Homo sapiens: one gene and its partner. The protein of the gene in region 2 interacts with the protein of the main gene of each other region in a biochemical or structural test. Each region holds a gene or a part of one and is shown on either strand. Other genes may lie near its edges.

The links.
Region 1: the proteins of ANKRD44 (region 2) and USP6 form a complex in vitro, tested with the Homo sapiens proteins (one study listed by BioGRID and IntAct).

Annotation. Positions count from the first base shown.
Region 1 is NC_000017.11:5,164,722-5,176,419, forward strand, and holds the end of USP6 (ubiquitin carboxyl-terminal hydrolase 6), read left to right. Parts: intron 1-3,210; coding exon 3,211-3,402; intron 3,403-4,045; coding exon 4,046-4,334; intron 4,335-5,757; coding exon 5,758-6,194; intron 6,195-6,865; coding exon 6,866-6,958; intron 6,959-8,083; coding exon 8,084-8,257; 3' UTR 8,258-10,270; downstream 10,271-11,698. UniProt on the Homo sapiens protein: Deubiquitinase with an ATP-independent isopeptidase activity, cleaving at the C-terminus of the ubiquitin moiety. Catalyzes its own deubiquitination. In vitro, isoform 2, but not isoform 3, shows deubiquitinating activity.
Region 2 is NC_000002.12:196,983,843-196,995,159, forward strand, and holds the end of ANKRD44 (serine/threonine-protein phosphatase 6 regulatory ankyrin repeat subunit B), read right to left. Parts: intron 9,833-11,317; coding exon 9,741-9,832; intron 8,967-9,740; coding exon of another isoform or gene 8,914-8,966; exon of another isoform or gene 7,305-8,913; intron 7,255-7,304; coding exon of another isoform or gene 7,238-7,254; exon of another isoform or gene 7,086-7,237; coding exon of another isoform or gene 6,838-7,085; exon of another isoform or gene 5,808-6,837; coding exon 5,749-5,807; 3' UTR 2,820-5,748; downstream 1-2,819. UniProt on the Homo sapiens protein: Putative regulatory subunit of protein phosphatase 6 (PP6) that may be involved in the recognition of phosphoprotein substrates.

The DNA of each region.
Region 1 (11,698 bases), on a different chromosome or scaffold from region 2:
GGGCTCCACTACATGTAGGGTTTCTGCATGTGCTTAGAAAGTCATGTAGACAAAAGAGATACTGTGGTTTAAATTGGGATTATTGCCCATATGCTTTATATTTTTTATTCCAGTGATTTCCCTTTTAGGAATTTATCTGAGGGGAGAATACTCTGTAATTACTCCATAATTTGCAGGCAAATATCATCATAGCATTTTTTAGGAGAGTAAAAAGTTATTAACAACTTATATTTGTCTCACATTAGAGGAATGGTTAAATAAAGCATGGTGTATTCATTGGATAAAATATAATGCAGTTGTTGAAAATGATTACTAGGAGTTTTTGCTAACATTTATGGGAACATGCTTACGATATGTGAACATTGTTTTAAAAACAAGACATAAAGTTGCATATACTGGAAATAATACCTTCAATATTGAAAAAAATACTATTTAGGAAAAAGGACAGAAGAAAATCTGCCAATATTTTGACAGTGGGTTGCCTTTGTATTAAGAATATAACAGGATTCCCTGCCTTTTTACATTTTTCTCTGCTTTCCAAAATTTCCACATGAATATTATACCTAGTAATCAGAAAAAAATAGAGGGGCAATCACTCTTATCCTTTATATTTCTCTCCTGTTTGGACCTCAGATTCCTCAGTAGAAAATGAAACTAGATGCCAGCCTGGGCAATATGATGTCACCCTGTCTTTACAAAAAATGCACAAATTAGCCAGGTGTGGTGGTGTGCACCTATAGTCCCAGCTGCTTGGGAGGCTGAGGATGGAGGATTGCTTGAGCCCAAGAGATCAAGGCTGCAGTGAGCTGTGATCTCGCCAGTGCACTCCAGCCTGGGTAACAAAGCAAGACCCTGTCTCAAAACAAAACAAAACAAAACAAAAACAAAAAAGAAAAAAAAATTAAACTAGACAAATTCTTAGGCCTCTCTCTTTAATAGTCTTATATGAAAACTATTACTTCATTTCCTGTGTTTTGTGTTAAAGATGAGCTTTAAAGCAACTCTGAAAAAGAAGAGGGTTCCTATAGGTAATTTATAGACTATTTAAACAGTAGTAGAGGATCTAAGCATAGATCCCAAGAGGTAAAGGGAATCTTTATCACTTTGGGAACTTTTACTGATAAATAGAAATTACTGTCAGTACAGTCCACAAATATGTTGTTTATCAGCCATCTTTCCTCCCTGTCTTCCTCTAGCACTGTAGCCTGTGTTCCCCAGAAAATATGGTCAATAAAATTCAACATTCTTTACTAGCTTACTCTCATTTGTGGTTGGCCATAAAGTATTCCTGGTAGAGATAATAGAGATAATGTTTAACTGGCCATGAGAAAGGAAACACTATCGTATATGATACACCCCTTTTTCTACTCATTCCAACAACGATGATACAGCACGTTTCCTTTTGAAGCACGTGTTTTTTCCTTGAGTGACCAGTTCAAAAGATGATGACAGTTAATATCTTGTTACTACAGAATTTGTACTCAAAAAAGAAGTCTATAACCCAAGTCCAAGCCAGATTTCCTTTTCTAAAAAAAGAATTTTCCTCTAAGTTCCCCTTTTTAAATGAGCTCTTTAGCCTGGGTAGTTATGCAGTGCTAGAACCGTAACTGCATGATCAAACCCAACCTTGCTAGTTTATAACAGCATTTGACAGCCTCGTGACTCTCATGTAGGGAAAAAGTCTCGCCTGAAAACCCATGCTAAGCTGAATGTCTTGAGCTGTGCCAATTTGTATTCCAGGCAGCCTAAGGTTCCCATCATGAGTTTCAGGAAGGGAAATTCATGGAGGAAGTTCACCTCTGGAAGGGAGGAGCAATAAATAGGGTGGGTGATGGACATATGTGACATTTGCCACAGAGAGGCAGTCAGTGTGGGCCTTGTGGTCCGGGCTGTGCTTTGGGACACAAATATATACTGTGTGAAGTCTTAACGGTAGCATTCATAACCCTGATGCTTCACCCACCTTCCCATACATTAGAGGGACAAACAGAAGGATCCCAGCTCTATGGTTCTTGATTGTTTGTCAGGTAGCAGCCAGGCATGGAGAGGGAAAAATTCTTTCTCTTCTGCTGCATTCTAGATCCTTCCTTCTCTCCTTCTTCATTCTACACCACCCCCAACATACATCCCTGCACCCCGCCCATTCTTTGCTCTCTCTCCTTTCTTACACTTGACTCCTTCTTGCTCCACAGCCTAACATGCTGATTAACAGGACCCCAAAGGTTTGGGTGGGTATTAGAGGCCTTCTCAACAAAAGCAGCACACTCTTGAGCTTGTTCTTCCTTTTGTTGCCATCTCAGATAAAAAGGCCCCATGAGGGAGGAGACAGATAATTATAGACTTGGTATTCTGATAACTCTGTGTTACATGGGATCAGATGCAAATGAGTTGTACCCTGTGGTGTTTCATGCTCTGCTGTGTTGTCTTCTCATGGTGAGCTTTTCTGTGCCCTCATTTCATCCAGCTCTGGTTTCTGTGTTTCATGTTATTTCTCCTAGCCTCGTAAACTCTGCAGCATACTAATAATGCTCTGGCTTTCTGATTAAAAATAAATGGCTTACTATCAGCACCCCTGGCTTGAGGGCCAGCTCACATGTAACCCCTTATAGGATTCCAAAGTTGTTAAATAAATTCAATTCTTTTTGTTTTTGTCATTTTGAAGCATTCAAAAATCTTTCAAGAAAAGTTATGGTCATATAAACAGAAATTTTATCCAGAATGTTACTGATGTAACATTTGTGAATAAATGTGTAGGTGTTGTATTTGCTCGGACTCTAGTTTGGGTTGTGTTTTCTTTTCCCTTTTTTTGAGACAAGGTCTCTCTCTGTCATCCGGGCTGGAGTGCAGTGGCGTAATCACAGCTCACTGCAACCTCTACCTCCCAGACTCAAGCAATCCTCCTGAGTAGCTGGGACTACAGACATGCGCCACAATGCCCAGCTAATTTTTAGATTTTTCTTTTACTGAGACAGGGTCTCACTCTGTTGGCCAGGCTGGTTTTGAACTCCTGGACTCAAGCGATTCCCCCCACCTCGGCCTCCTAAAGTGCTAGGATTACAGGCCTGAGCCATCATACCCAGCCAGTTGTATTTTCTTTTTCCTTATAAAGAGTAAAATAAGGGTGAGTGACCGAGCGGTTGATGCATAGCTAGATCACCAGTTTAAATGCCTTCCCACACACCCCTTTCCTCCTGTTCCCTCTACCTACAGGTTGTAGATAAGCATGAGAGTGTGGAGCAGAGTCGGCGAGCGCAAGCCGAGCCCATCAACCTGGACAGCTGTCTCCGTGCTTTCACCAGTGAGGAAGAGCTAGGGGAAAGTGAGATGTACTACTGTTCCAAGTGTAAGACCCACTGCTTAGCAACAAAGAAGCTGGATCTCTGGAGGCTTCCACCCTTCCTGGTATGTTACGGTCCTGCCTCTGAGAGAGCAGGAATCTAGCATAAAAGAAAGAAGACATGAACAAACAGGAGGTTTTGTTATTTTTGAGAATAAGACTTTTCCTGCAGCAGTGTTTAAAACACATTCTGTACAAGGTTTTTATGTTGAATACAGAGATGAATCTTTCTACAAATATTTGGTAGTTCCTTTTCCTAAAAAGCTCATAACCTAGAAGAAGAGATCAATCATGTAGCCCAGTAACTGCAATTCAGTGCGATGTGAGAACTGCCACAAGGGGTACAACGTGGTGAATGTGAACTTCAGGAGAGGGTGAACTTCTGGCTCTGTGGAGAGAGGAAGCTTAGGCTAGCCCTTTGTGGACTCTAGAAGAGCAACTGAGCCCGGGGGCAATACCCACTGCACATAGTCACGTGGCTGTGGCCACACTGCTGAGTTGAGCGCGTGTGCACAAGGACGCCAGTGCACTAGGGCCTGTGTAGAGGCCTTTATGAAACCATATTTTTGAAGTCTTTAAAAAATAATGAAGAGTAAATGTTCTGTTATATATTTCCAAACATTCACATGTATTTGACTTGTTTTTTCCATGTAAATTTTGTATCTTCAGAACCCTTTAATGCGATGTTTTCTACCTTTACTTCTCCAGATTATTCACCTTAAGCGATTTCAATTTGTAAATGATCAGTGGATAAAATCACAGAAAATTGTCAGATTTCTTCGGGAAAGTTTTGATCCGAGTGCTTTTTTGGTACCACGAGACCCGGCCCTCTGCCAGCATAAACCACTCACACCCCAGGGGGATGAGCTCTCCAAGCCCAGGATTCTGGCAAGAGAGGTGAAGAAAGTGGATGCGCAGAGTTCGGCTGGAAAAGAGGACATGCTCCTAAGCAAAAGCCCATCCTCACTCAGCGCTAACATCAGCAGCAGCCCAAAAGGTGAGGCCTGGGGGCCTTATGCAGTTGCTTTCTTGGGACTCCTGTAGGCTACATATGTTTCTCTGTCTTCTGTTCTGGAACATCAGGTTGGTTGGGTGGAAGGAACCTATCTGGAATCAGACCTATCTGTATTTGAGCTATGTAAGTTGTAGCAAGAGATTCAGCCTCCCTGAATCTATTTCCTCATCTGTAAAATGGAGATAATGCCAGGTTTACAGAGTTGAGAGTTTGACACATGGAGAGTAAAGCACTTCACACAGTGCCTGATGTATGGTAAACAGGAATGGTAGCTGCTGTCTTGTCCCCTTATAGTGAAAGTTCTGAGGTTCCCCATCTTTCAGGGGGTCTAGAGGATCAAAACTCCTTTTTTATTTATTTATTTTATTTTTTGTTTTTTTGAGACAGGGTCTCACTCTGTCACCCAGGCTGGAGTGCAGTGGTGCAACACAGATCACAGCTCACTGCAGCCTGGACCTCCTGGGGTCAATCAATCCTCCCACCTCAGCTTCCTGAGTAGCTGGGACTACAGGCATGCACCACTGCACCTGGCTAATTTTTGTATTTTTTGTAGAGATGGTGCTTCGCCATGTTTCCCAGGCTGGGCTCGAACTCCTGCACCCAAGTGAACCTCCTGCTTCGGCCTCCTAAAGTGCTGGGATTACAGGTGTGAGCCACTGTGCCTGGCCCAAAATGATTTTCATAAAAATACTGAGAAAATATGTGCTTTTTCACTTTTTTTCTCTCACAGATGTACAATGGTGTAAGAGAAAACATGACATGGAATAATATCGTCACTTTGACAGTGAAGTCTGTGCTAATGTATTGTACTTTTTCATTCCTCAGTTTTAATTTCTAATACAGGAAATATTGATAGATAAAATTCACATAAAAGTTCTAAAGGTTCTCAATAATTTTTAAAGGTATAAAAGGGGGTAGGGGTAAGAGGCTATAACTAAAAGGTTTAAAGCCTTGCAGGATTTTTGTGAGACACAGAGGTAACAACGGACAGCAGGAAATTCCCAGTACCATGCCTAACAATAGGAAGTACTCAGTAAATGGTGGTCACATTTTTTGTCTAATTTTACAAAGGAGAGGAATATGTATTTGGAAAACTCCTTACTCTAATAGTTGGATTTTTTTCAACTGAATCATCATAAATCATAATCATCTTTCTGCTGTTTTCTGAGTCCCTATAATGCACTTTACATTTTCAGGACATTGTTGCTTATAGGGACTTGGCATTGAAGAAGACAAAAATGTAACTTACTGGCTACACAATAGGAACCAAAGGGTAGCCAGTCATGACTCCCCTGTCTTTACCTTTGTGTGTACAGTTGCAAAGCTAACCTCGGAGTTAGCATTTGGGGCTGGCTTACTTTCTGGCATTTGGATTTGTGAATCTTTTCTTCTGTCCTGTTCACAGGTTCTCCTTCTTCATCAAGAAAAAGTGGAACCAGCTGTCCCTCCAGCAAAAACAGCAGCCCTAATAGCAGCCCACGGACTTTGGGGAGGAGCAAAGGGAGGCTCCGGCTGCCCCAGATTGGCAGCAAAAATAAGCCGTCAAGTAGTAAGAAGAACTTGGATGCCAGCAAAGAGAATGGGGCTGGGCAGATCTGTGAGCTGGCTGACGCCTTGAGCCGAGGGCATATGCGGGGGGGCAGCCAACCAGAGCTGGTCACTCCTCAGGACCATGAGGTAGCTTTGGCCAATGGATTCCTTTATGAGCATGAAGCATGTGGCAATGGCTGTGGCGATGGCTACAGCAATGGTCAGCTTGGAAACCACAGTGAAGAAGACAGCACTGATGACCAAAGAGAAGACACTCATATTAAGCCTATTTATAATCTATATGCAATTTCAGTAAGTGGTTTATTATACGGTTTTCAGAGAGTGGTCTGTGTTTTGTTCACTTGTCTTCATGTATTCATCAGCAAGTATTTTTCAGGTCCTGCTAATTTCCTAGCATTGAGCTTAGTGATAGACAAAGTTAACATTGAAATCTGGGCTCACAGATGTGGTGTGGTGGCTCACACCTGTAATCCCAGCACTTTAGAAGGCTGAGACAGGAGGATCGCTTGAGCCCAGGAGTTTGAGACCAGCTGCTTGGGCCCCGTCTCTACAAATAATTTTAAAATGGAGCGAGGTATGGTGGCATGTGCCTGTGGTCCCAGCTACTTGAAAGGCTGAGGCAGAAGGATCACCTGAGCCCAGAAGGTCAAGTCTTTAGAGAGTTGTGATCACTCGACTGCACCCCAGCCTGGGTGATAGAGCAAGCCCCTGTCTCAAAATAATAATAATAATAATAGTAATTACAATTATAAAATGATTGTTTATCCACACAAGACTTGGAGCTTATGACTTTTGTATTTTGCTTTTTGCTTATTTTGGTTTTAGAGAAAGAGGGTTCTAAAATATTTTCTCACCTATTGATCATTTACATGATCAGTGTTCTCCTGCTCAGATCTTAGTGCTATACCCTGGCCATAGTACAGTTAACTACTAACATACCTCCACTCTCTTATCTCTTACAGTGCCATTCAGGAATTCTGAGTGGGGGCCATTACATCACTTATGCCAAAAACCCAAACTGCAAGTGGTACTGTTATAATGACAGCAGCTGTGAGGTAAACATTCTCAATCTTTGAATGAAAGTTAGAATATCAACAGAACTGGGGAACATTTGTTGAAATAATGGACTATCTCTTGAATAGGAAATAGATATTTCTGTTAGAATTAATATATAGATGCTGTCAGTATTAAAGGAACAAAAGTGATATGCAGAGCAGGGAATGAAAACATGAGTAGTGAGGAAAAATAAAGAGTTAGTTGACCGGGCGCAGTGGCTCATGCCTGTAATCCCAGCACTTTGGGAGGCTGAGGCAGGCTTAGGAGGTGGATCACTTGATGTCAGGAGTTCGAGACCAGACTGGCCAACATGGTGAAACCCCATCTCTACTAAAAATACAAAAATTAGTTGGGCATGTTGGCGCATGCCTGTAATCCCAGCTACTCGGGAGGCTGAGGCAGGAGAATGGCTTGAACCTGGGAGGTGAAGGTTGCAGTGAGCCAAGACTGCACCACTGCACTCCAGCCCGAGCAACAGAGCAAGGCTCTGTCTCAAAAAAAAAAAAAAAAAGTAGTTAGTTAATGCAAAAAGCTCCTATCTTCTAGACTGTTAGAATTTGATGGGGTTGGGCCGAGCGCGGTGGCTCATGCCTATAATCCCAGCACTTTGGGAGGCCAAGGTGGGCGGATCATGAGGTCAGGAGATAGAGGCCATCCTGGCTAATATGGTGAAACCCCATCTCTACTAAAACTACAAAAAATTAGCCAGATGTGGTGGCACATGCCTGTAGTCCCAGCTGCTCGGGAGGCTGAGGCAGGAGAATCGCTTGAACCCGGGAGGCAGAGGTTGCAGTGAGCTGAGATTGCACCAGTGCACACCAGCCTGGTGACAGAGCGAGACTCCATCTCAAAAAAATAAATACATACAAAATAAATAATTAGAATTTGATGGGGTTTTAGGTCATTCTGTTTTGACTTGTCTATGGTCAAAATATTTTCCCCAAAGCAAACATTGGAAATAATGGGGCTCATTTTAAAGGGGCAGGTGTGAGACAGCCAAACTAGTGAGCTTATTGGAAGCAATCAGGTTAGTAATTACAGAGGGTTGGTCTTCCCTTTCCTGGCAAGGATTTAGAGTCATAATAGTGATGGCTTTTTGTTAAAGGTTTTTCTTGCCCTTTCAGGAACTTCACCCTGATGAAATTGACACCGACTCTGCCTACATTCTTTTCTATGAGCAGCAGGGGATAGACTACGCACAATTTCTGCCAAAGATTGATGGCAAAAAGATGGCAGACACAAGCAGTACGGATGAAGACTCTGAGTCTGATTACGAAAAGTACTCTATGTTACAGTAAAGCTACCACTCTGGCTGCTAGACAGCTTGGTGGCGAGGGAGATGACTCCTTGTAGCTGATACTTGGCAAAAGTGTCACTGAAAGACAAGCTAAATGTAGTTATTTTATCCTGTTAGAACAAAAATTCTAATTAAAATAGTTAACTTGAAGAGTAGAAACAATTGTATTTTGAAGTCTCATACAAGCTGTCTGATAGAGAACTTTCAGGCAGATCCCACCATTAGCCTGTAAACAAAAGGTGTGGCACCAGCCACCTGGGACCAAATAAGAATTGAATTGTGCTTGTCCAGATATGAACAAATATGTAGTGAGTATAGAGTTTACCAATAATCATAACAAATATTAAAGATTTCCTTGGAGTCAGAGGAAAAAACAAACAATTATAATGTTGTCTAGGGACGACATGATACGCTACCTCCTTTTTCCTGAAGTTTTATTCCATTATATTGACAAGATGGAGAAAGCAAGATCATGAAGGTGTGCAAATGATTCTTACGGCATGGACAAGGATTTTTCAATTTATTTTTTAAACTGTTTCCATACCCTTTCTTTTTCTTGCTTTTTGTTTTTGCCATTGTGTTTACGTTTGAGACACAACCAGTCATTGGTGGCAGGGGCATAGAGTGGTCAGTCTGAAAGGGAGGCTCTCTTAAGAGCTATGTGCCTTCCAACCAGAGGGAGACCCAGTAGAAAGAAAAACATCCTGGGAAATCCAGCTACCAGGGCCCTCCCAGTGGAGGCATCTTACATTTAGGCTACTTCAAGTATCCTCAGAAATGTATTCTGCACCCCCGGCCCCGCCCATGCTGAGGGAAGGGGAGCAGTTGCCAATATTTGCACCATCTTCACATGCACATGTTGCAACAAGAGCTTCTGGGAAGGTAAGCGGCATCGGAGCTAGATCACGTTTCACAATTAGTGGTTATTCTTTTCTGTGTTTGTTTTGCACTTTAAAAAAGAGAGAACACATGCAAATGAACTTGCTTGTGTGTATTTGATGGCTCTAAGGGCTATAAATTACAAACAAAACACATCCCAGACATTAGGAGTTCATAAGTATATTTAATGAAATTGGTGGTTTTAGGAAGTCAACTTTAGTTTTGCTTTGTTTGCATGTCCACTGGTTTTTTTATTTTGATATTTGTCTTTTTTTAAATTTTACAGTAGTCATTGAAAGTTATGTTTCTTTGCTTACTTCATTTTTTCCCTCTAATTATTTAAGATTGGAACAAAAGTATAAATATTATTTATTTGAGGTAGAATTTTTTTCATGTAGTTTCTTAATATATACTTGAAGGAAATGTTTCACCTTATTTTTGGTCTTTGTTTATTCATTTAGACCCTGCAAGTTGATTCTCATTGCCAGATTCCATTACCCTTTCTTCCTCATAGGTAGTAATTACCAATGTAACTAAGCATTTGTGTTCTGATATCTGAGGCCAGTAACTATTAATATCTAGTTCTCAGAGCATTTGGAAAGGTTATCTTAAATGGCTACCTAAATTGAAATCCTTTTCAGAAAAAATATAATTGCAAGTAGGTAGGAGTGGCCTAAATTGTCTAATGTAATAAAGTCAGACAAAATGCACACTTTATAGTTTCAAGATTTTCAGTAAATAAAATCTGTCCATTCCTACCTGGACATGTCCCATTAAAAAGTGGAAGATTTTAAATAATTTCTTTACAGATGTTTTATTTAAACAGGTAGCACAATCTACTAATGTTGTGTGATTTGTGTTATACTGGTTGTAATTAATTTTTTTAATTCATGAACTAGCGGAAAATTTATTAAATTAACTATTAACTACATTCACCTTGTAAATTACTGTATAAAACTTGTTGACAATGCACTGACTTTAGAAAGATGTTAATGTACATAAATAGAGTGTAAATAAAATAGTGTTGATGTACTGAAATATGAACTGTATCAAAAGTATTGGTAATTGTATATGGGGTGTACCTGTTTATCTGTTAACTATTATCCAAACAAATTAAATACTGTGGTTGCCTCTATGTGCTGTTTTTCCTCATACAAGTAAACACAGAAAGTCAAATTCTTCAGCCTCCCTCTCTGTGATCCTGTTTTAATTCTCCTACTTGAATAATTTCTTTCTGACTTGTATACAGAGGGGATGCTTCATCTCTGAGGTTGGAAACTCTGTAGAGCAGGATTCCCCAACTCCTGGGCTACAGACCAGTACTGTCCATGGCCTGTTAGGAACCGGGCTGCACAGCAGGAGGTGAGTGGCGAGCTGTATTTATAGCCGCTCCCCCTTGCTCCCATTACCGCCTGAGCTCTGCCTCCTGTTAGATCAGCAGCGGCACGCCATTCTCACAGGAGAAAGAACCCTATTGTGAACTGCGCATGCTAGCAATCTAGGTTGTGTGCTCCTTATGAGAATCTAATGCCTGATGATTTGAGGTGGAACAGTTTTATCCTGAAACCATTCCCCCCATCCCCCCAGTCCGTGGAAAAATTGTCTTCCACAACACCCATCCCTGGTGCCAAAAAGGTTGGCAACCACTGATGTAGAGGGTAGAACAAGATCTCTCCAGTGACCAGGTGACTTTAAACATGGCTCACATCCCTTTTAGAAAGTTATGGCAGGGAAGCAAGTAGAGAGCAGGTGGTAAACTGAGGATTGGTGCCTACATTGGTACCTACAGTGGGTCCTACAGTCATTTTTGTGCAGATCAGGAGATGAGGTGAAGAGAAGGAAAGCTTCTCATTTGCATAATGCCTTGAAATGACCCTAGGTTTCTAGCGGGCACCGAGAAACCAGAGATGCCCCTTGTTGTCTGTCTGGGAGATCCAAGGAGACATCTGGCAGTGTTGAGAAGAGATGAAGGTGACAGCTGTAGGTCCTTCACCCTCAGCTTCTATTTGTTCACCTATAAAGTTAAAATACGGAACACTCAGGCTTGTAAGAATTAAATGAAGGACACAAACCCTGGCACAGTTGCTTGGTAAGTGCTCAATCCAACGATATTCAATCCTATTTCACAAAGAGGGATTTTTTGTTTGTTTTGTTGTTTGTTTCTTTACCTCCTTGCTACACCGACGCTAAAAGAGTTTAATAGTACTCTGTTCACATTTTCCAAAAACAAGAATACACATTAAAAATGTATAAAATGGGCCAGGCCCAGTGGCTTACACCTGTAATCCCAGCACTTTGGAAGGCCAAGGCAGGCGGATCACCTAAGGTTGAGAGTTCCAGGCCAGCCTGACCAATATGGAGAAACCCCGTCTCTACTAAAAATACAAAATTAGCCAGGCATGGTGGTGCATGCCTGTAATCCCAGCTACTTGGGAGGCTGAAGCAGGAGAATTGCTTGAACCCGGGAGGCAGAGGTTGCAGTGAGCCGAGATCACGCCATTGCACTCCAGCCTGGGCAACAAGAGCAAAACTCTGTCTCAAAAAAAAAAAAAAAAAAAAAGAA
Region 2 (11,317 bases):
AGCAGGAGTTCCCCCCACTGGGAAAGTAGATACAATCACCTCTTGCTTAAGACAAGAAATATACATGTGTATGGCCACATTTTGGTTTGATAACAAAGGAATTAAAGATGCCTTGATCTGTGCAAATCTTCTCCCCTGGAAAAATACATAACCAGGGCACATGTGCTCAGCATTGCCTTCCAAAGTTCTTTCTCAACCTTGTAAGTTCTCGTTCTGAGGGCATATAAAGTATGTTTATGCAATCCCTTGTGAAAATAGATGAGGCAATATGGCTAGTGTCATAAGCAATACATTGATGAAGAAATGATTCAGAAACAAGAGAAAGGCAAATAGGTGAGCAGTGGGGTAGAGGAGCATTGACATTCTAAGTGGCGCAGTTATTCCCTGGGTTGAGTGGCACATTTGGTCTCCCTGGCGCTTGGAACTATAAATACTCTAGTAGCAGCCCTGCCCACCCCCCAGCCATTGTGCCAACTACAAATGCCCACACATTTCCAATCACTCCCTAGAGTGCCTGAGAATTAATGAATGGCACAGCCATTATCTTGGTGCTTTATATTTTACAGCAAATGTACCTTCAGGATGAAATTTGCTAAAGAGACAATTCATATAGTACTTTTACCCACAATGTTTTTATGTTAATAGCCTTTTAGCTTAATGCTTTTGTGCTTTGCAAACTAATTCTGGAACACATTAAGTGTGTTAAGTGAGGGATACTTATACAGGGATCTAAACCTACCAAATGGAATTAGCGTGAAGGAACCTTTGACAAGCAGTTTGAAGACAAAGTGCCACATCAATGTTCAAAAATATAATTACCACAGTGGAGGCCATTATCACATTTCTCTGCTTATGAGAACACAATTAAAATTAGGGATCTCTACATTTTCCTTGAAAGGGTGAGTTCAGTCAGTCAAGCAAGCAATTTCCTTAGCAATGACTGGGAAGAAGGTGTATTAGTATGATGTTACAGCCTCAAAGGACACCGTGATAGACCAGGGTGGCGAGTAGCTTCCAAAAATGGCTCCTAGTAATTGCTGTTCCTGCTGTTCACACCCTTGGGGAATCCCTTGCCCTTGAGTATAGATTGGACTTAGTAACTTGCTTCTCATGAATAGAATATGAGAAAAATGATGAAATATCACTTCTGAAATTCAGTTGCAAAAATCTGTGACTCTGTCTTGCTCTTTGTCTCCCTGGCTTTTCTCAGCCTGCTCGCCCGCAAGGCAAGCTGCCATGTTGTGAGCTTCCCTATGGGAAGGCCCATCTGGCAAGGAACGGACGGCAGCCAACAGCCATCAAGGAACTGAGGCCCTCAGTGTAACAACCCATGAGAAGAATCCTGCCAACAACCATATGAGTGAACTTAGAAATGGATCGTTCCCAGGCCAACACCATGATTACAGGCTGTGAGAGACCCTGGAACAGAAGACCCAGCTAAACTAGGGCTGACTCATAGAAACTGTGGGTTAGGAAACATTTGTTGTTTTAAGCCACTAAGTTTTGGGGTAATTTGTTACACAGCAATAGATAACTAATATACCCAGTCTACTCTAAACAACAGGAAGCACTCACTTGTGGTGTGACTCCTGTTTTACATTCTTTAAGATTGAAAAGCACCCAGATTTGTATATTTGAATAAGAAGGGAGGCAGGGCTGAGTACAAAACCTCCCTTAACATTTCTGGCAGAAAAAAACAAAACATTATATGGCAAGATGGCATCGAAGAGAGAACATCTAGAGGCAGATGTGGTATCATCAGATCACTATCTTCAAAAATTCAAGTTGTATAACTTCTCTAGGATTCAGTTTCTTCCTGAAAGAGCTGGTGATGTGACTGGGCTGGACTGTAATAACTGCTAACATTCTATACTACTTGATTTGGGGAACTCAGGCAGGCACCACCCCCAAGTCTCTTCGTCAATAGCTGGAAACTCCATCATTAGGAATTTGTTCCTTAGTGCTTCCAGAGACTGTCCCTGAAGTTACTACTCAAGATGAAAAATTTTGGATGGTGAGATAGATGGGGAAGGAAATTCTATGGATACCTTTAAGGATAGTGCAGAGATGGAGGTTCTTGTGTTGTTATAAAGTCCCTGAAGGGTAATGGTGACAATACCAAAGTTAGGCATGGTTGATTTCACAATTTTGAGGACCTAATAAGCTTCCTCTTTTTTGATGTGGACTATATAACTGATCACATTTCTCCTCTTACCTTGGCTGCAAGGAAGCTGAGAGCAAACACAAGTTCAGTCACAGATACTGTTTTAAATTTTATGGTTCCTTTATCTGTTTGTATTCTTTTTCTCTGTTCTCATTTTTCTATTTCTAGTTTATCACGTCTTTTGTCATAACCCAGCTCAAATCCTTTATGGGCCAGCCTGGGCAATATAGTGAGACCCCATCTCTACAAAAAAACAAAATTAGCTAGGCATAGTGGTGCACATCTGTAGTCCCAGCTACTCGGGAGGCTGAGGTAGGAAGATTACTTCAGCCCAGGAGGTCGAGGCTGCAGTGAGCCGAGATCTCACAACTGCCCATCAGCCTGGACAACAGAGCAGAAAAAAACAAAACAAAACAAAACAAAACAAAACCCTTTATGGAAAAAAGTTGGAAGCATAAATACATATAATAAACACAAGCATATATGTTTGAATTTTTTCTCTAATTGTGATAACACAAACATAAATCGTGAATCTGGAGATACACTTTTATCTTGATTATTTTCTAAATTTAAAGTTAATTTGGCTTGAGGGGGTGCAAAGATTTAAATTAGCATAATTTAGAAAAAGCATAAATTGGAAAAATTAAAACACAAATTCCAACAATATTTGTACCGTTTTTATTTGTAAAAATAACCATCTGAATGCATTTCCATAGTATATTACAGTTAAGTACTTCATTACGTTATTAGAGCATTCAGTAGTTGCAAAAGTATTAAACTGTGCTTGAGAAGATTCAGATTGTTTCAAAGTCATTCACTGAACTAAAAGTCATTTTCCCCATTTTTACAGTCATGACATTTACCAGAGTCATTCAACTCCAATTTACATAAGAAAACATTATAGACAAAATCCCACTGAAATCATCAAACAATATTTTATGCTGTTACAAATATGTTATGCAAAATATAACACTGGCACCAGATTTGTATCATCGTGCTTTACAAAGATATATTGCACATGCTAGAGCATAAAATATGTAGACAAAACTACCAAATAAAAGATATTTGCATTGAATTTTTAGATCACATAAGAAACGCATAGAATTACATTTTATACAAACACTCAGATTGTCACTATCTTAAAATGCTTTTCCCCTATAATACTGACCTATGGTTTATAGTTTCGTAAGACGAAAGCATTTTAGCACTGCAAAATCAAACAATTCCTATAGAAAACTTAAGCATTTTCATATTCATTTCAATGCAAGTACAAGGGGAAATAGGAAAAAAGACACTTTATACATTCAAAGAAAAGTTGAAATGAAAACTCACTGGTATCATATTGCTCTGATAACACTCAAATGAAAAAATACAAAACATTCCACAGAACATTTTCAGAATATACAAATATAAAAAGGCACTCTAACTTCATATTACAAGACAATAAAACGGATGAGTTCTTCAACCAACACAACATATAAGCACACCAAGTTGCTCAACAGTACAAAGAATAACTAGTGCAGCAAATCCATTTGATGTTCTTGTTCTAATTTAATAACAAAATGATAAACCAAGCAGTGTTTACTGCCTAAAGTACCAAAACATACTATGGTGCCCTTTTAGTAGTGATAAATAGAAATACCCTGAGCTATTTACTGTAGAATCATAGCAGATTTTAGGCAATTTGGAGATAGTAATGTATTTAGCAAAGACAGGCAGACACTGGCAAATAAGTAAGTGCAATGAAACATGATCCTTGTAGTTGTGGTTAAAATACAGTCTAAAAATAACACAAATAAAAGCACTAAGCAACTAAGACTCAGTTAAAAACACATTTTTTTTTCTTAGAAAGCTATGGTGCAAACATAATTTTATTTCTAAGAGATGTAATTAAAATACAGAAATGATAGTTTTTAAAGTCATTTCTTTAAAAAAATTTTGCCTTGGGGTATGGGAGAAAGAGAAAGAGAGGAAGAGAGAGAGAGAGAGATCAGTTGATGTAATGAACAGTTCATTGTGAGCATGATTTCATTTCGTTCCTTTGTCCTCCTTCTATGAGTAAGAGAGTGGGAAAAGTCAAAACGCAGCTCCATGGAGATAACGTCTCATGGTGAGTCACTGCTTTGCTGAAATGATTCTTGTACTCTCTGCTACACGACAGGAAAAATGTTAACGCTGCTTTGCCATTAAAGCAAGCATTTCATTTCCTGCTTGAAATGCCAACTGAGCAAGATTTCCATTCACTTCTAGAAAAAGACACCGCAGCATATTGTGCTTCTTCAACACTGAACCTCTCTTAATTTTCAGTGTTTTGGTAAAGATAAGGTCATTATTGCTCATTAGCAATTTATCTGCTTTTTAAAAATTCATCTTCTCTAAACAAACGAAAAGGACAGAAGGTGGGAAGCACAACACCAAGAATTCAAAAAAACAATGGTGGTGGTGTGGAAAATTTTCAGTGAAATCAATACCAGTTCAATAAATCCTTTGAACAAGTTCTCATTTGTGAAGAACCCAACAGGAGTTTTAATTAAATCCAGGATATTAAGAGTAAGATTAAAGTTTTATAGCTAGATGAAAAATATAATACAGTTATCTGTCTTTGATCCAGATATGATAGAACATTATTTTTGAAATATCTCACATACACTATAAAATAGCAATTTCCAGGGTGGAAATGGAACTCATTATAAAACGTCAGAGAGTACTGCTCTAATTCGACACATTTCTTTTCTGTCTCTTCCTCAAGTAGAAAATAGCACTTGAGCTGGTGATTTTTATTTCTCCTTTTGGCACATGTGCCCACACACTGCCATCATTTCTCATCAGGTTACTGAGACTATGTGAGCTTTTCAGTGTACTTAGGGTAATTTCTAGATATTTCTTTGTGCTGCCTTTGTGTATATGATCCACTACACATCTGAGTTTTCATCTCGCAGAAGGGCATCCAGACTGCAATGTCTTCTAAGCTCTAAGCTGGCTACAGACTGTGGCTGAGCAGTAGAAGATGCGTAGCCCTCTCTAACCAACGCGGAAGAACCTGAGGGTCATCTGGAAACCTTAGCAGTGGAAATGCTAGGTTTGGCCCTTGGGCTTTTGGCTAGCCCAGGGTCAAGTGTTTTTTTTTTCACTTTTTTTTTGTTATTCTAAATAAGATACATAGCAATTAAAATAGAGAACAAATAATGGATGTTTCCTCACCATTTGTTTCATTTCAAATAAATATAAACACATTTACAGCAAAAGTATATGGACATTTTCTCTAGTTTGGCAAAAAAAAAAAAAAAGGTCAGCACATCATCAGTTACAAATGTTAAGTGGTCAACTAGAAATCTGTGTCCTAAGAAATATAAAATACAACAAAGACTGGTACACAGAAAGATTACATTTAACTCCATAAAAAAGCTACTTCAGTTCTCACTTGCATTTTGAAGGAAAAAAATGTGTATCTTCCATTTTAGACTGAAGCATTTTGGTCCTCATGTGTAGCTGGCTGATGAACTACACACACACACACATATATATATATATACACACGCACACATATATGTGTGCATGTGTATGTGCATAATTTTTAAAGAGTCTCATTCTTCTTTTTGTACAGCGGTTCCAGGTGTGGAACGGGGTCCATTTGACCTAGAAGCTTTGGCAGAGGGAGCAGACACAGTATTCACTATGTTGATTTCATCATCAAGCAACTGGCAATCGGTTTTACATGCTAAATCACCCATTTCTACTTTCTGCTTTCACTTTTTTTGTTCCTTTTTGCAGTCACACTTTTCACTGACTTGGTATGACCTTGACTGAGAAGCTCATTTTACTACTGATGAACAATGCTGATGATTCTGATGTTTTTTAAAAGTTAGTATTTTGATTTAAGAATAAATTAACAAAGGGTAGTTTCATACTATTTTTGCATATTGTGTCAAAGTTTTGGTGCAATATAATTTTCACCTGAAATGTTATTAGATAAATTTGGGTTCAATCACTTAAGTGAAAATTAGTCACAGGCTTGTTATAGGGAACACTGTGTTAAACAAAAAAAGCAAGTTCAATTTTTCAATTCATCTGGCAACTTTAACAGAGATCCTCAGAAAGAAGTTCTGGATATTCAAATGCTTACTATAGAGAGGATATAAATAGTTGGACTCTCTAAAAAGATTATTACAGGCATTATTTCTGAAGATGGACACCTTTACCTTTGGCTTCTAGTGAGGAAGTAAACATCAAAGTGAGAAGAAGTTTGAGGCATTTCCTATCTGCCTCTTCCCTTCCCTCCCAGGGGACATGAATGTCACACTGATATACTTCTGAGAACTCACTGCTAAATACATGAAAAGAAAAATTATTCATAGCGAACAGCTGCCTCTCTGCTGCATTATCCCCAAAGAACAGGAATTAAATACATCTTTTATTCTTTATTTAAAATGAGAGGTAGACTTTCACAGAAGTATCTTAGATTTAAAGAAAATGTGAAACAAAACAAAACTGGGGCCATCTGTGTGACTGTTCCACCCAACAGCCTCACTGCCCTCCCTCGATTAATTCCTTCTCTACTAGCTTCTGGAAGCCCAGGCCCCAAATAATACTTGAATACAACATAAACCTGGAATTCAAGCTTCTTTCCTTTCCTCCAACACAGGTGATCAAAGAAAAGCTTCTACAGTCCAAAGTCAAAACGTTTCCGAATCAGAATCATTTTCATTGTACCCATCCTCCGAGCCTACGTTGTTACTGCACAGGCTAACCATGCTACCCAGATTGGAGAGGGTCGTCCTGCTCAAATTGTCTTTTTTTAAACAAACGAAGTTGACAGCCATCATTGTACTGGAAGGAGAAAAAGGCATCATGGTAGCCAAAATGAGGGCCAGGCAGTCAGCCACGTCTTTGTTAGGAGCGCAAGCCAGGGCCGGGGTATGACCTGGGCGTAAATGCAGACAAGGCAGTGGTTAGTCCTGGGGAGCCTAGAGGAGGCACGAGCATTCCACAGTACATCTCGGATGATCTCACAGGCGGAGATGTATGTTGAGTTAGAAATCATGCCAGGTAAAACGAGGAGTTACTTCTCACAAGTCATGCTAGGGGTGAGGCTAGAGGGGGAGGGAGGGGGAGACATTTTATGGAGGGCTTTTTATTTTTGTTTTCAGCTCATATGACTATGACAAGCACAATATCATCCAAAGTTAGGCAGGATTCCAGCCTTCATTTAGTGAACACAAACACAAGGGGGTGGGTGTGGGACACAATTCCACAATAAACAGCAACAGGACAATCAGGAGGATGTTTCCGCCTGAGAGCACACACACACCATGAGCCTCAGGCCTGGGCCTGAGAAGGACTCTCATTCTGAGAACAATGACTTTCCATTGTTAGGTAATTGTGTGTCCAATTAGAAAAGATATTGAAAATTAGATGACTGCAAAAGTGAGTAATGAAGTTTTGTCACTTTATATATGCTTCATAGAAAATAGACACCAATAACTGGTTTTAGAAAAATGGAATCATTTCAGTAGATCAGAGACAGGAAAGCACAGGTTGTTTGTGATTAAAAATGTACAATCATTTAGGAGAAATTTAACAAATTTTTTTTTTGACAGAGTTTCACTCTGTCACCCAGGCTGGATTGTAGTGGCATGGGGCCTTGATTTTACTACAGCCTTGTCTTCCGGGCTCAAGCAATCCTCCCACCTCAGCCTCCCGAGTAGCTGGGACTATAGGTGTGTGCCACTACTACCGGCTGATTTTTTCTTTTTTTGGTTTTTTTTTTTTGAGTCAAGGTCTTGCTATGTTTCCCAGGCTGTTCTCAAACTCCTGGGCTCAAGCGATCCTCCCACCTTGGCTTCCCAAAGTCCTGGGATTAAAGGCGTGAGCCATCACACCTGGCCTAACAGAATATTTAAAAATGGCCACTCACCAATCAAAGTCTCAAATCTAAAATGTAATGGATGTGAGAAAATTACTATGCTTGTCATAATTAGAACCATGTTATTCTCATTTAGACTCAATGGATCCAATCCAGATAAGAAAACTGTCTTAACTCATAATATAGGTTCCTTGGGGAGGTAGATTAAGTCTTTGACTTGATTATTTCCTTATCCAACCTTTATCCTACTGGCCTGAAAAGGGTTAGCTGCCTTCTCAGCTGGCCAAAGTTTCCACTACACAGTGAGTAGGGCACTTGCTCAGTAATTCAGAGGAATGGCTCAATGAAACTTAACGTTTTGTTGTTTTGTTTATCATCACTCGACCTGCTCTCCCCACCCTGCCCTTTAGGACATCATTCCTTTTTCTGGTATGAAAACAAATAAGAATGAACAGGTAGTTTAACATTCCATTTCACGAAAGTCAGTGATGAGTAAAGGAATTATGGTTGTACTGCTATATAAAATTGCCCCAAACGTTCCCAGGCCTTTGGGATGCAGGTGCGCACCAACCCAGGGCTCTTGTTCCTAAGGTCACTATCAGCTGAACAAACCTTCAATGCAGCAGATTTACACCAGGAAAAGCAAAACTAATTTATTCTATTCTCTTTGACCATTTTGGAGAAAAACTGTGGGCCTCTGCAGGCCAACCCTAAGTCTACAGTAGTGTTAAGAGGGTGAGGGAAGGTGAGGCGGGAAAACCAAGGAAATGGAGTAATAGGGAACTTTCTGCACTTCCTAGATGAGTCAGGTGGGGGACACAGCAGGGTACATGCTAGGATACATGGGGCTGCAAAATCAAAACTAATAAGAGTTAGCTAATGATAATCAGTATGGCTGCTTACTTCTGAGAAATAGGCATGAGCTGCTAATTCCAATACCTGTAATAAGCAGTTAATTGAGTTACATTAATACATTATAATACTTTAATTAAATGCCACATTTTAAAAATTACATAATTCATAAACATCCAGAAGTTCCTTTTTTGCTCCCCAAGGTTAATAGGCATTGTGCTTAAAATGGCAGTTTAGTACAATTCTAGTAGCCATTCCTTTCAAAATTTCTTAGGAAGCAGAGTAGAAAGCTTCTGTTAAGAATTAGTTCATTAGGAAAGGAACATTAATACAGATCAGGGGAAGCTTCAAGCCTAGACGTTAATTAAGAAATTTTACTCTTGTTCCTCACATTTCCATACTGGGAATATGAGTTCTGATCTGTACTTAAAGAAAAAAAAAGTTTGATCTCAGAATGAACTTAAATACAATCAAAGATCCAGGTTTTTATTTGAGCCCTTGAGCATGCATTAATGACATGTGTAGTCCCTAACTCTTCAGCATTTGCAGTTAAAATTTTGAGTGTCAACTTGAAACTCTTAGTGTGTCTAAGATATTTTAACCACTGTGCTGAGGAGTTAGAGACCAGCTGCTGGCATTACATGCAAAATGGACAGCACTGGGTGGCCTACAGGTAGACTATGTGATTTACAAAAAGACAGACAGGACAAGTTATCCTTGCTTGATTTCTCACACACAGGACTTCCAAGGGGGACAGAATTCTTAAGTGCCTTTTATACTAGCTCCTATCTTTCTCATTTCCTCTGGCTTCAACTAGCTTATGGAAGGTACCTGCAGTCGCTGTTGACTTTTTCCACTTACCATTTTCATCTACAGCAAGTACACAGGCCCCTTTGGCCAGCAACTCCTCAACTACCACCTTTAAGCCATTGCGCGCAGCGACGTGGAGGGGTCTAAAAAACACAAGACCGAGCATCAGTTGTGATACATATTTGGGTGAGAATGTGGAATTTTTGTTAGCCCATGTCACTAAAAGGAAGAAGTACTTAGACTCTACAAATAGTACATGGATGTTTTTACTTAAGAAAAAAAAATGCTGACCAGATCTTTTCCAGGTGCTAATGGTCCAACTGTTGTTGTATGTTTGGCCCAGATCTTGCTGCAGATATTACAAATATTCTGCATCTCAAACAATCTCAATGACAGTAAATACGAAGACAGAGGAAGAACTCAAGCTTTGTTGTGTTTTGCAGAAGGCCCTTTACTGCTTGATTTCTAACACAGCATTTGAATCACTGTTTCACACAGTTCAACAATATGACTGGCATTAATATCAGTCATATATATGTATAATTTCAAACTTCCTTGTTACTACTAAATGCACACAGATGTTTTACTGAATTTATAATACCTTAAAGAATTATGTCAAACTCAGTATATTGTGCTATATACTGCTTAAGAATCTTTTTCTTTTTTTTTGAGACAGGGTCTCACTCTGTCACCCAGGCTGGAGTGCAGTGGCACGATCACAGCTCACTGCAGCCTTGACCTTCTGCTGGGCTCAAGTGATTCTCCTGCCTCAGTCTCCTGTGTAGCTGGGACTACAGGTGCAAACCACTGTGGCTGGCTAATTTTTTTATTTTTTGTAGAGAAGGGGTTTCATCATGTTGGCCAGGCTGGTCTCAAACTCCCGGGCTCAAGTGATCTACTTGCCTCAGCCTCCCAAAGTGCCGGGATTATAGGCATGAGCCACGACACCCAGCCAACAGTCTTCTTCTTCTTCTTCTTCTTTTCTTTTTTTTTTGTGGGGGGACAGTCTCGCTCTTGTTGCCCAGGCTGGAGTGGTGCAGTGGCACGATCTCAGCTCACAGCAACCTCCACCTCCCAGGTTCAAGTGATTCTCCTGCCTCAGCCTCCCAAGTAGCTGAGGTTACAGGCACCCACCATCATGCCCAGCTAATTTTGTTGTTGTTGTATTTTTAGTAGAGACGGGGTTTCACCATGTTGGCCAGGCGGGTCATGAACTCCTGGCCTCAAGTAATCCAACTGCCTCGGCCTCCCAAAGTGCTGGGATTAAAGGCATGAGCCACCACGCCCGGCTTAAGAATCTTAAATGAAAAAAATTCCTTTGCCTTTAAAACAAATGCATAAATAATTTCCTAAAGCGGAAAATGAAACAGCTTTTAGATCTTTCACACCAAGGGTTACACTGAATTATATTAAAATATAATCAAGACAAATAGCTTAGAAACTCTTCAAATGTATTCTGGGAAACTGATTTGCAAAACTGTCATTTTCCAGTCAGAATACATAATGCTAATACATAATACAAATAGTTTCCCCAAATATGTCAGTCCATAAAATTTTTCTAACAGCCCACTAAATTTATAATATTACCCCAGAAATATCAGCAAAGAAAAAGAGAGACTTCACAAAAT